2 separate regions of the Homo sapiens genome follow, and region 2 is linked to region 1. The links come from fine-mapping of genetic effects on gene expression. A gene starts in region 1. The other region holds a variant in brackets. All regions are shown on one strand. Distances are between the middles of the regions.

Region 1 (4,375 bases):
TATGCCTGTCTTTACTGCAATCTCTGAACATAAATTGTGAAGATTTCATGGACACTTATCACTTCCCCAATCAATACCCTTGTGATTTCCTATGCCTGTCTTTAATCTTTTAATCCCATCATCTTCGTAAGCTGAGGAGGATGTATATTGCCTCAGGACCCTGTGATGATTGTGTTAACTGCACAAATTGTTTGCAGAGCATGTGTGTTTGAACAATATGAAATCTGGGTACCTTGAAAAAAGAACAGGGTAACAGCAACGTTCAGGGAACAAGAGAGATCACCTTAAACTCTGGTTGCCTGTGAGCCAGGTGAAACAGAGCCATATTTCTCTTCTTTCAAAAGCAAATAGGAGAAATATCGCTGAATTCTTTTTCTCAGCAAGGAACATCCCTGAGAAAGAGAATGTATCCCTAAGGGGAGGCCTCTGAAATGTCTGCTTTGGGGACGGCTGCCTTTTACAGTTGTAGATAAGGGATGAAATAAGCCCCAGTCTCCCGCAGTGCTCCCAGGCTTATTAGGATGAGGAAATTCCCGCCTAATAAATTTTGGTCAGACTGGTTGTCTGCTCTCAAACCCTGTCTCCTGATAAGATGTTATCAATGACAATGTGTGCCCAAAACTTCATTAGCAATTTTAATTTCGCCCCGGTCCCGTGGTCCTGTGATCTCGCCCTGCCTCCGTTTGCCTTGTGATATCTTATTACCTTGTGAAGCATGTGATCTCTGTGACCCACATCCTATTTGTACACTCCCTCCCCTTCTGAAAATCACTAATAAAAATTTGCTGGTTTTACGGCTCAGGGGGCATCACGGAACCTGCCGACATGTGATGTCTCCCCCGGACGCCCAGCTTTGAAATTTCTCTCTTTTGTACTCTGTCCCTTTATTTCTCAGACTGGCCGACACTTAGGGAAAATAGAAAAGAACCTACATGAAATATCGGGGGTGAATTTCCCCCGATAGATGACCATCTCAGCCTGGGGTCAGGGCAGGGCTCAGAATGGTCTGGGTGGACGGCCGTCTCAGCCTGGAGTCAGGGCAGGGCTCAAGGTCTGGGTGAATGGCCATCTCAGCCTGGAGTCAGGGCTGGGCTCAGACGACCAGCAGTCTTTGACCTGCCATGCCGGGAGCCACATCTCGTGACCAGGTCCTGGCCTTCCACGCTGGCCAGACGCCTGCATCCAAGACGTCCTGGTCCCTCTGACTGCACAGTGTGACAGCCACCACCCAGCCATGCCCTGTACTCCTGGATGTGATTTGCTAATTAGGGTCAATGGGGTAAGATGCCCAATTAAATATGAATTTCAGATAAACAATTTTTAGCATAAGTATGTCCCAAACATTGGTAAAAATGACTATTTGTTGTTTATCTGAGATTCAGATCAAACTGGGCATCTTGGACATTTTATTTGCTCAACTAGAAATTCATGAGTGCCTAAGGAGCTCAAGGGACATTCCAGACCCCCCAAATCTGTGTCGGACACAGGGGCAGTCACAATGGGGTGCAGTGGTTGTACCTGGTGACTCAGGACATTCGTCTACCTCCTCATGTCCCCCCTGCCTCTAGCACCACAGTGTCATGCCCTACCCTCCAGGGGGCCCAGAAAGCAGTGCTTTTGCCCAGGGCCATTGTCCCCTAGATAGAGGGTTCAGCCCAAGGAGGGCAGCCCTGATTCCCAAGCCTCCTGCAGCACTGACTCTCCACTGCAGCAGGCCTGGGGTTTCTGGCCATGGCTCGCCTTTGGCTCACCTCTCCAGAAGGTCTCTGGAAGCTTCTTCCCCACAGGGTCCTCCCTTCCACTGTAACCTTCCCTGGTTCTGGGAAACAAACTTGAGAGGCCCAGGCGCACCCCACCTCTTCTCTTTAGGTCTCCACAGCTTTTCCTCTGCCTCGTCCCCAAGGGGATCACTCTGGCCTTTCCCCTCTCCAGTGACCCTCTCCACACCCTCCCGGCTTCCCCCTTCCTCTGAGCACCCCAGATGCCAAAGGACAAGGTGAGGGAGCCTTTGGAGAAATGTTGCCTGACGTCACTGGTCCCCCACGCTCGGGGGACCCACACGGCCCGCCCTGCAGGCAGCCCCCTCCCCGCAGGCAGCCCCCTCCCCGCAGGCCGCCCCCTCCCCACCTCACCTCACAGCTGCAGGGGTCGGGGCTCGGAAGTGCTGGGGGCAGTTCAGGTTGAAGGCTGGGCAGCGTGCACTTCTCCCCCAGCCTCCTGGGGCCCGGGCATCACCGGAAGCGGAGTTTGTTCCCACTTTGTATCAGTCGCAAAGAAAGAGCACCCAATTGGACAAAAGGCAAGCAGGCTGCGTTCCTGGCCCGGAGTGGAGAAGAGTGAGCCCCTGCCCTGTCAGGGAAGCTGAGGCTGGGGGTTGTGAGGAGTCCCGTGCCGGGAGGAGGCTGCAGGAGCGCCTCAATGCACCTCTTGATACCACGCATGCTTAGCAAGGCCTGGGGACTGTCCTCTCGGGCAGGACTTCCGCCTTGTAATGACATGTCGCTGATTTAAAGGGAACTGGGGGTCACCAGCTCTGGTTTGTGCAAGTCTGGTGCGTTCTTATCTCCCTTGTATTTGGCAGGGGATCCTAAACCTCTCCTGGTATGTTGAGACATCTGGAGCTCATTAAGCCTCGGCGCCTGTAGATAAAGAGATTAAAGGAAAAAAGAAAAGAAATCCCGCCCTGGGGCAGCTGGGGTAGGATTAGCCTGGAGGCCACGCCTCTGCAGGGTCTCCCATAGGCTGGGCCAGCCTCTGCCCTCCCTGCTTCCAGAACCCCGGACGCTGATGGCCTGTGGCGGCCACTCTCCGCCCACCCCGGAGCCCAGCCTAGCGGGGAGAAGGCCGCCGGCCCGTTCGAATGTCCCTCTGCTTCCAGGGTCAGCCTGCACGCCACTCTCACAGAGGCCAGACGGGCGGTGGGGCGGGGACTCAGTTCATCCTCTGCCTGAGGAGCAGGTCTCGGGTGCGACTGAGCTTTTCACCCTTTGAGAGGAGTCAGGGACACGCAGCGTCTCCAGCAAGCTGGTGGCAGAAACTGATGGAGCATCCTAATCACAAAATAGGAAGAGAGTTTGCAAAATAGGAGCATTTACCAGAAGCCTCTCTCTCTCCCTCCCTCCCTCCCTCCCTCTCTCTCTCTCTCCCTCTCTCTCTCTCTCTCTCTCTCTCTCTCTCTCTCTCTCTCTCTCTCTCTCTCTCTCTCTCTCTCTCTCTCTCTCTCTCCCTCCCTCCCTCTCTCCCTCTCTCTCTCCCTCCCTCCCTCTCTCTCTCCCTCCCTCCCTCTCTCCCTCCCTCCCTCTCTCTCTCTCTGTGTGTCTCTCAAGTAGAAGTGGGGTCTCTATGTTGCCCAGGCTGCTCTCGAACTCCGAGGCTCAAGCGATCCTCCTGCCTCAGCCTCCCAAAGTGCTGCGATTACAGGTGTGAACTACTGGGCCCAGCCCCAGGCCCTCTTACAGGAGTGGGCTGCCTAGAAACATTCCAGTGCCATATCCCACTCCACTCCGGGTGCAGGGACAGGACCCCTGCCACCCCCAACCCAGGCCCAAAAGGAGGGGCCAGGAGGGGAGGGGCCACCAAGGCAGGTGAGCTGCTTAAGAGGAGCGAGGGCTGTGGACAGTCCTGCGGACTGCAGGAGGGGCCAGCAGGATCAATATCCAGCTTCTCTCTCCTGCTGGGCTCCTGCTGGGGCTCCCTGTTGGTCACCCCAAAACCTACTGTCTCTCATCGCTGCCGGGGCTGGCCAGGCTCAGCTGCTGGTTCTGCCTTGGGGCACCTCCTAGGTGGAGTCAGGGTGGCTGAAGGCTTCCCCACTCATGCGTCCACTGTCTGGACATCCTGCCCCTGCCCGACCTCCAGGAGTTGCAGTGTGTGAAGGCCACACCACAGCCCCTCTCTGCTGCCTCCCTCATGTCTCCTCCAGAATGATGCTCTTAACCCCCTCATTAGAGGCCCCCATCCTTCCCAACTGTACCTCTTGACACCCTGAGTACAGTTCAAGAGACCCTGAAGAAACTCAGAAAAGTGACAACTGGAGGCTCTGGGAGAGAAGAGTGAAGTCACTCACATTTGTTTTTATTTACTTATTTTTTTTTTAGAGATGAGGTCTTGCTTTGTTGGCCAAGCTGGTCTCTTGAACTCCTGGCCTCAAATGATCCTCCCATCTTGGTCTCCCAAAGTGTTGAGATTACAGGTGTGAGCCATTCTCTCCGGCTTACTCTGCGTTTTACAGGATGGGATGTGTTGATGAAAGAAAGCCAAACTCTAAAATATTTGAAGAGGTTTATTCTGAGCCAAATGTGAGGACCATGACCTCACATGACAGAGACTCAGGAGGTTCGGGGAACATGTGCCCAAGGTGGCCGGGGTACAGCTC
Region 2 (4,375 bases), 860 kb after region 1:
CTGCTGGCTTCAGAGAGGGTCCGGAACCTTCTGTTACTACTCAAAGCACCAATGAATCCAGGCTGAGCATGGGGGCCTCAGGGGCGACAGCAGGGAAATGGCCGCACTGAACATGGACCAGGGCCGGGTCTGTATCTCCCAGTGAGGCCCTCAGGTAGCCAGTGCCAGTGTTCCCAGGGACCCAGGGACATGTGTTGAATGCCCGTCCCCCGGCCCCACTCCAGGCCTTCCATGCCCAGGACAAAGCACGGGGGCCCAGCTCACAATGAAGGATCCTGGGATTCTTGAGAGCTGAGGTGGTGGGTGCTCCTGATTCCGGGGGAAGGTTCTGGTTCCTGCAGCTTTGACAAACCCCAGGGCCAGGCCTCACCCCCAAGCCACAGAGGCAGCCCCTCTGGGAGCAAGTCCGGGGCCGGAGGCTCGGGGGTCACCTCGTGCTTTTCCATCGCAGCTTGGGCTCGGGGCCGTGGGCCTGTGGCCTGGCTGGTGAGCTGCGGCCAACCCCCAGGCCTGCCCCAAGTGGAGTGTGGACCCACAGAGGAGCCTCCCCAGGCTTCTGTCTCCTCCTCAAGACCCAGGCCTGGCCCCTAGCAGGAGGCAAAGGCAGAGACCCCTCCCTCCCCTGGTGTCTGGCAAGGTCTCGTACCTTCCCCGGGTTGCTGATCCCGGGGAATGCTCCTGCTTCTGGCGACACTTGTTGCCTTGTCTTACACAGAACCCCAAACCCAAAGACGCCCATGAGAGACACAAGCTCATTGCCATGGTGGGTTGTGGTGGGTTGAGGCAGGAGGCGTCGCTGGCACCAGCTGTGTGCTGCTGGCTGAGGCCTCACCGGGATCTGCTTCAGTACCCGAAGCTTCACCCTCAGACACACCTCTTGGTGAGGACAGCTCCTGAAGGCCCCCATGGCATGCGGGTCCCACATAGAACAGGTGGCCGCCCGTCTGCAGGAGGCCTGTGCAGGGTTTTCTCTACCTGGCCCAGTGGAGTTGCTTCCAGAGCAACTCAGCACCTCAGAGCTGCTCATCCTGCTTTAACAAGTGGGGAAACTGAGGCTTGGGAGTGAGAATTGCCCCAAGGCCTCACGGCTGGCAAGTGGCAGAGCTGGGGTGGGATCATCCCACCCTTGGACATGAAGTCTGGTTCTTTCCTCTGTAAAGGGGTGCAGTGTCAACTGCTGTCTGCATGGAAGTAGAGTCTGGATGCAATGGCCGCGGGGCTGGGGGGGACTCAGGTGAGGGGATACACTGGCTGGTGGGGGGGTGCCCAGGTGAGGGGATGCACTGGCTGGTGGTGGGGTGCCCAGGTGAGGAGATGCACTGGCCACAGTGGGACTCAGGTGAGGGGATGAACTGGCTGGTGCTGGGGGGTACTCAGATGAAGGGATGCACTGGCCCGGCCAGCTCAGGGCCCTCAGGTGAGCGGCCGCCCAGGCCTTCACACTTTGGGAGTGGCTGTTCCTTGGCCAAGGGGAATTCTCCTATTGAATCAGCCGTGAGTGCTCCTGTAGAATTGCGGACCCTGTGAGAGAATGTTTTTATCCAGAACAAATTGAGAGGCTCCCCACCACGTGCCTTTCCAGTCACTTCTCCCATTTCAGCCTCAGTTTCCCTCCCTGTAAAACGGGGCTGTTGGAAGGACGAGGGAGACCTGGGCCCGGAGCGGTGGTCGTGGTGGCTGCCCACGCTGTCTTCTCTGCGTGCACCTCCTCTCTGGAGGCCAGGCCCAGGGTCCTGCCTTCCTCCTCCTCCTTCCTCCTCCAACAGGGAGACTCCGCAGCGCCAGGCCGTGCCTCCTCCCAGGAGTTTCGTTCTTGTTCACTGT[G/C]GTACAAATGTCAGGGAAGAATTTAAATGAGGGAAACCGTCTCAGAGAGTGTGTTCTGGCAGGATTTCAGGACACTTGTAATTAAGGGTGCAGCGAGGAGGGACCGACCCCACAGCGAAGGGAGGGCTGGCGCCGGCAGGCGGGGCCCTCAGCTGCCTCTGCTTCCTCTCGGTGCCACCGTGACCCCAGCCTCCGGTCTGCGGCTGAGCTGCCCCTCTGAGCTCTGGAGCGGAAGTGGGGGTCTGATGGAGGGGGCTGGCCACGCAGTCCCCTCAGACCCTGCCCATCACTTGCCCCTCCCTGACCCCTCCAGACCCCCCTTGGGGTCTCTCTAGGCAGCCCTGCTAGAGGGGCCCACCTGTGCGCAGCCTTTGGCCATGGCCTCTGCTTGGCGGACCTGAATTCTGGAGCCCCTCCCACCCTGCTCCGGAGCGGTCGCCAGCGCCCCGGGCCCCTGTCCCTCCAGTGACAGCGGCTGTCTCTTCAGGGTCAGAGGGTCGGGCCCCCTACCTGCAGCAGCCTGTTCTCCCCAGGCCCAGGGGCAGCCTTGGAGGGGCATGGAGACCCAGCTCCGGAAACCCTGGGGGCCGGGAATGGGAAGGGGCAGGCCGGGAAAGGGATGTGGACATCTATTTAGCGCTTACTGCATGCTGCCCTGTGTTTGGCACGCATCGTCTCATTAATCCCTCAGTCTTGGGCGTGGCTCCTAGTCAACCCATCTTACAGGGGAGAAAATGGAGGCCCAGAGGGGCTTCAGGTACTGGTCCAAGGACACTCAGAGGCTGGGCAGGGTGGAAGGTCACTGACTGAATGCCTACTGTGTGCAAGGTTCTTCTGCTCTGGTTCATCGTTGGAGTCTGGCTCTGTCCCGGGGCTCAGGTGTGGAGCTTGCGGTCTTCCTCCAGCTCGTTCAGGGGCTGTGGTGAGTTTTGTGGTTTGGGGGTGGCTGGATGCTAGCCTCAATCTCGAGGGGCTCATGGTCTAGAGTGGATGACCGGCTGCCATAACACCCTGTGGGGATAGAAGTCAGGGAGGAGCCCAGGGTTCTAGGGTGTTCGTGGAGCAGAGAAGAGGGCCCGGCAGGCTGCCTGGAGGAGGTGAGCTCTGAGCAGAGTCCTGGAAGACCACAGGGACTGTGGGTAGAATGTTTATGGGTGTGCAGGGAGTGGGGAAAAGGACGGGGGCAGGGAGCCCGTGTTGGGGCCTGACCAGGGCTCCACCGCAGCAATTATGAGCAGCCGGGATTGGAATTCTGGACGGTCGCCTTCCAAAATCCCCCAGGTGCCGCAGCCCCACCTTCCAAAGAAGGAAATGAGAATCCGAGAAGGGCCGGGATTTGTCCAGATCAGGGACAGATCTGACCCGAGTTAAGATCTGAGTTGAGGCTCAAGGCTCTCCCTTGTGAAAATTAAATGAGATTTAAACCAACTCAGCCTTAAAAAAACAAAAACAACACCCCCCACCCTGCCCCTGAGCTGTCTTCAGCCCCATTAGGGAGAGTGAGAGAGCAAGGGTCTGCCAGTGAGGAGATGGGGCTCCGTGAATGTAATTAATCACTTTTCAATTAGTATTCAGGAGCTTTTGTCTGAGGACTTGAAGCAGGTTAGTTCCAGATTGCAGCGCCAGGGTTTTCGGATGCATTTTTATAAATGTTGTGAGCCGAAATAGAACGCTGGGAGCTGAGCAGGCAGCCCCAACCAAAGGGAACAGAAATGAAGCCCCACAATGAGAGAAGTGATTGGGAACGGGGGCGTCTCGCCTGACACTCTGCAAATTCCTGAGCCGCAGTGCAGGAAGGGCTGGGCCTGCAGCCTGGGAAGACTCTGGGATTCAGTCGGTGCTCCATAAACGCTCCTGGAGTGCTGAATGCTCCCCACAGGGAGATGGGTAGGGTATTCTTGGCGGCTCTCAGGGAAGGTTTGGGATTTCGGAAAGGCTGTTCTGAGGGTGCGGGAGCTGGTGGTCCCTGGCTGTCAACCACGTGCCAGGAACTGTGTGGGGTGATATTGACCACATCTCTTAAATCTCCAAGGATGGAGGGTCCCGTGAGTACCAGAGACGCAGGCACTGCTATCCCATTTCACAGATGGCAGGCTCAGGGTCCGGCGCCCTTCAGGGAGGGAGAGTTGATCCTCGGTGAGAAAGAGCATCCGGTGAGTGCCAGGCAGTGGGTCTGGCTGGAGGACAAGTGCCTGCCGGGAATCGGGGGCCACACACGTTCCACTCTATCCAGCTGGCTGTGAGATCCTGGGGACCTCCCCTGGCCTCTCTGGGCCTGGGCCTGTAACATGGGAGTAGCTAGGGGCCCCTGGAAGCACCAGAGCCAGAGCAGGTGCAGGGATCACCCATAGCCTCGCCCTGCAGAGCGAGCTCCCTGTGTCCAGGCATCCCTGCAGGTGCTGGGTGGCACTCTGCTGCCCGAGAGGACAGAAGCACTGCTTGGGTGGCACTCTGCTGTTGGAGGGGACAGAAGCACTGCCCAGGTGGCACTCTGGGCCAGGTCATGTCAAGAATCCCTCTCTGTCCTGAGACTCAGCTTCTCCAGGCATGA

What was found. PIP is the estimated chance that this variant, and not a neighbour inherited with it, causes the effect. A credible set is the group of variants that fine-mapping cannot tell apart.
Region 2: its variant is the best candidate, but not a certain one, in a credible set for the expression of LY6S-AS1 in naive CD8 T cells (Schmiedel 2018, PIP 0.58).

The regions. Positions count from the first base shown.
Region 1 is chr8:143,037,327-143,041,701 of GRCh38, reverse strand. It overlaps LY6S-AS1 (LY6S antisense RNA 1), which reads right to left and starts at 2,493. Exons shown (of 6, transcript NR_149322.1): 1 at 2,133-2,493. LY6S (lymphocyte antigen 6 family member S) reads left to right here. Exons shown (of 4, transcript NM_001406478.1): 4 at 1-863. RefSeq lists enhancers at 1-248, 2,270-2,821.
Region 2 is chr8:142,175,309-142,179,683 of GRCh38, reverse strand. It overlaps MIR4472-1 (microRNA 4472-1), which reads right to left and starts at 3,345; the gene lies at 3,266-3,345. The variant G/C (reference allele first, on the strand shown) is at 1,825.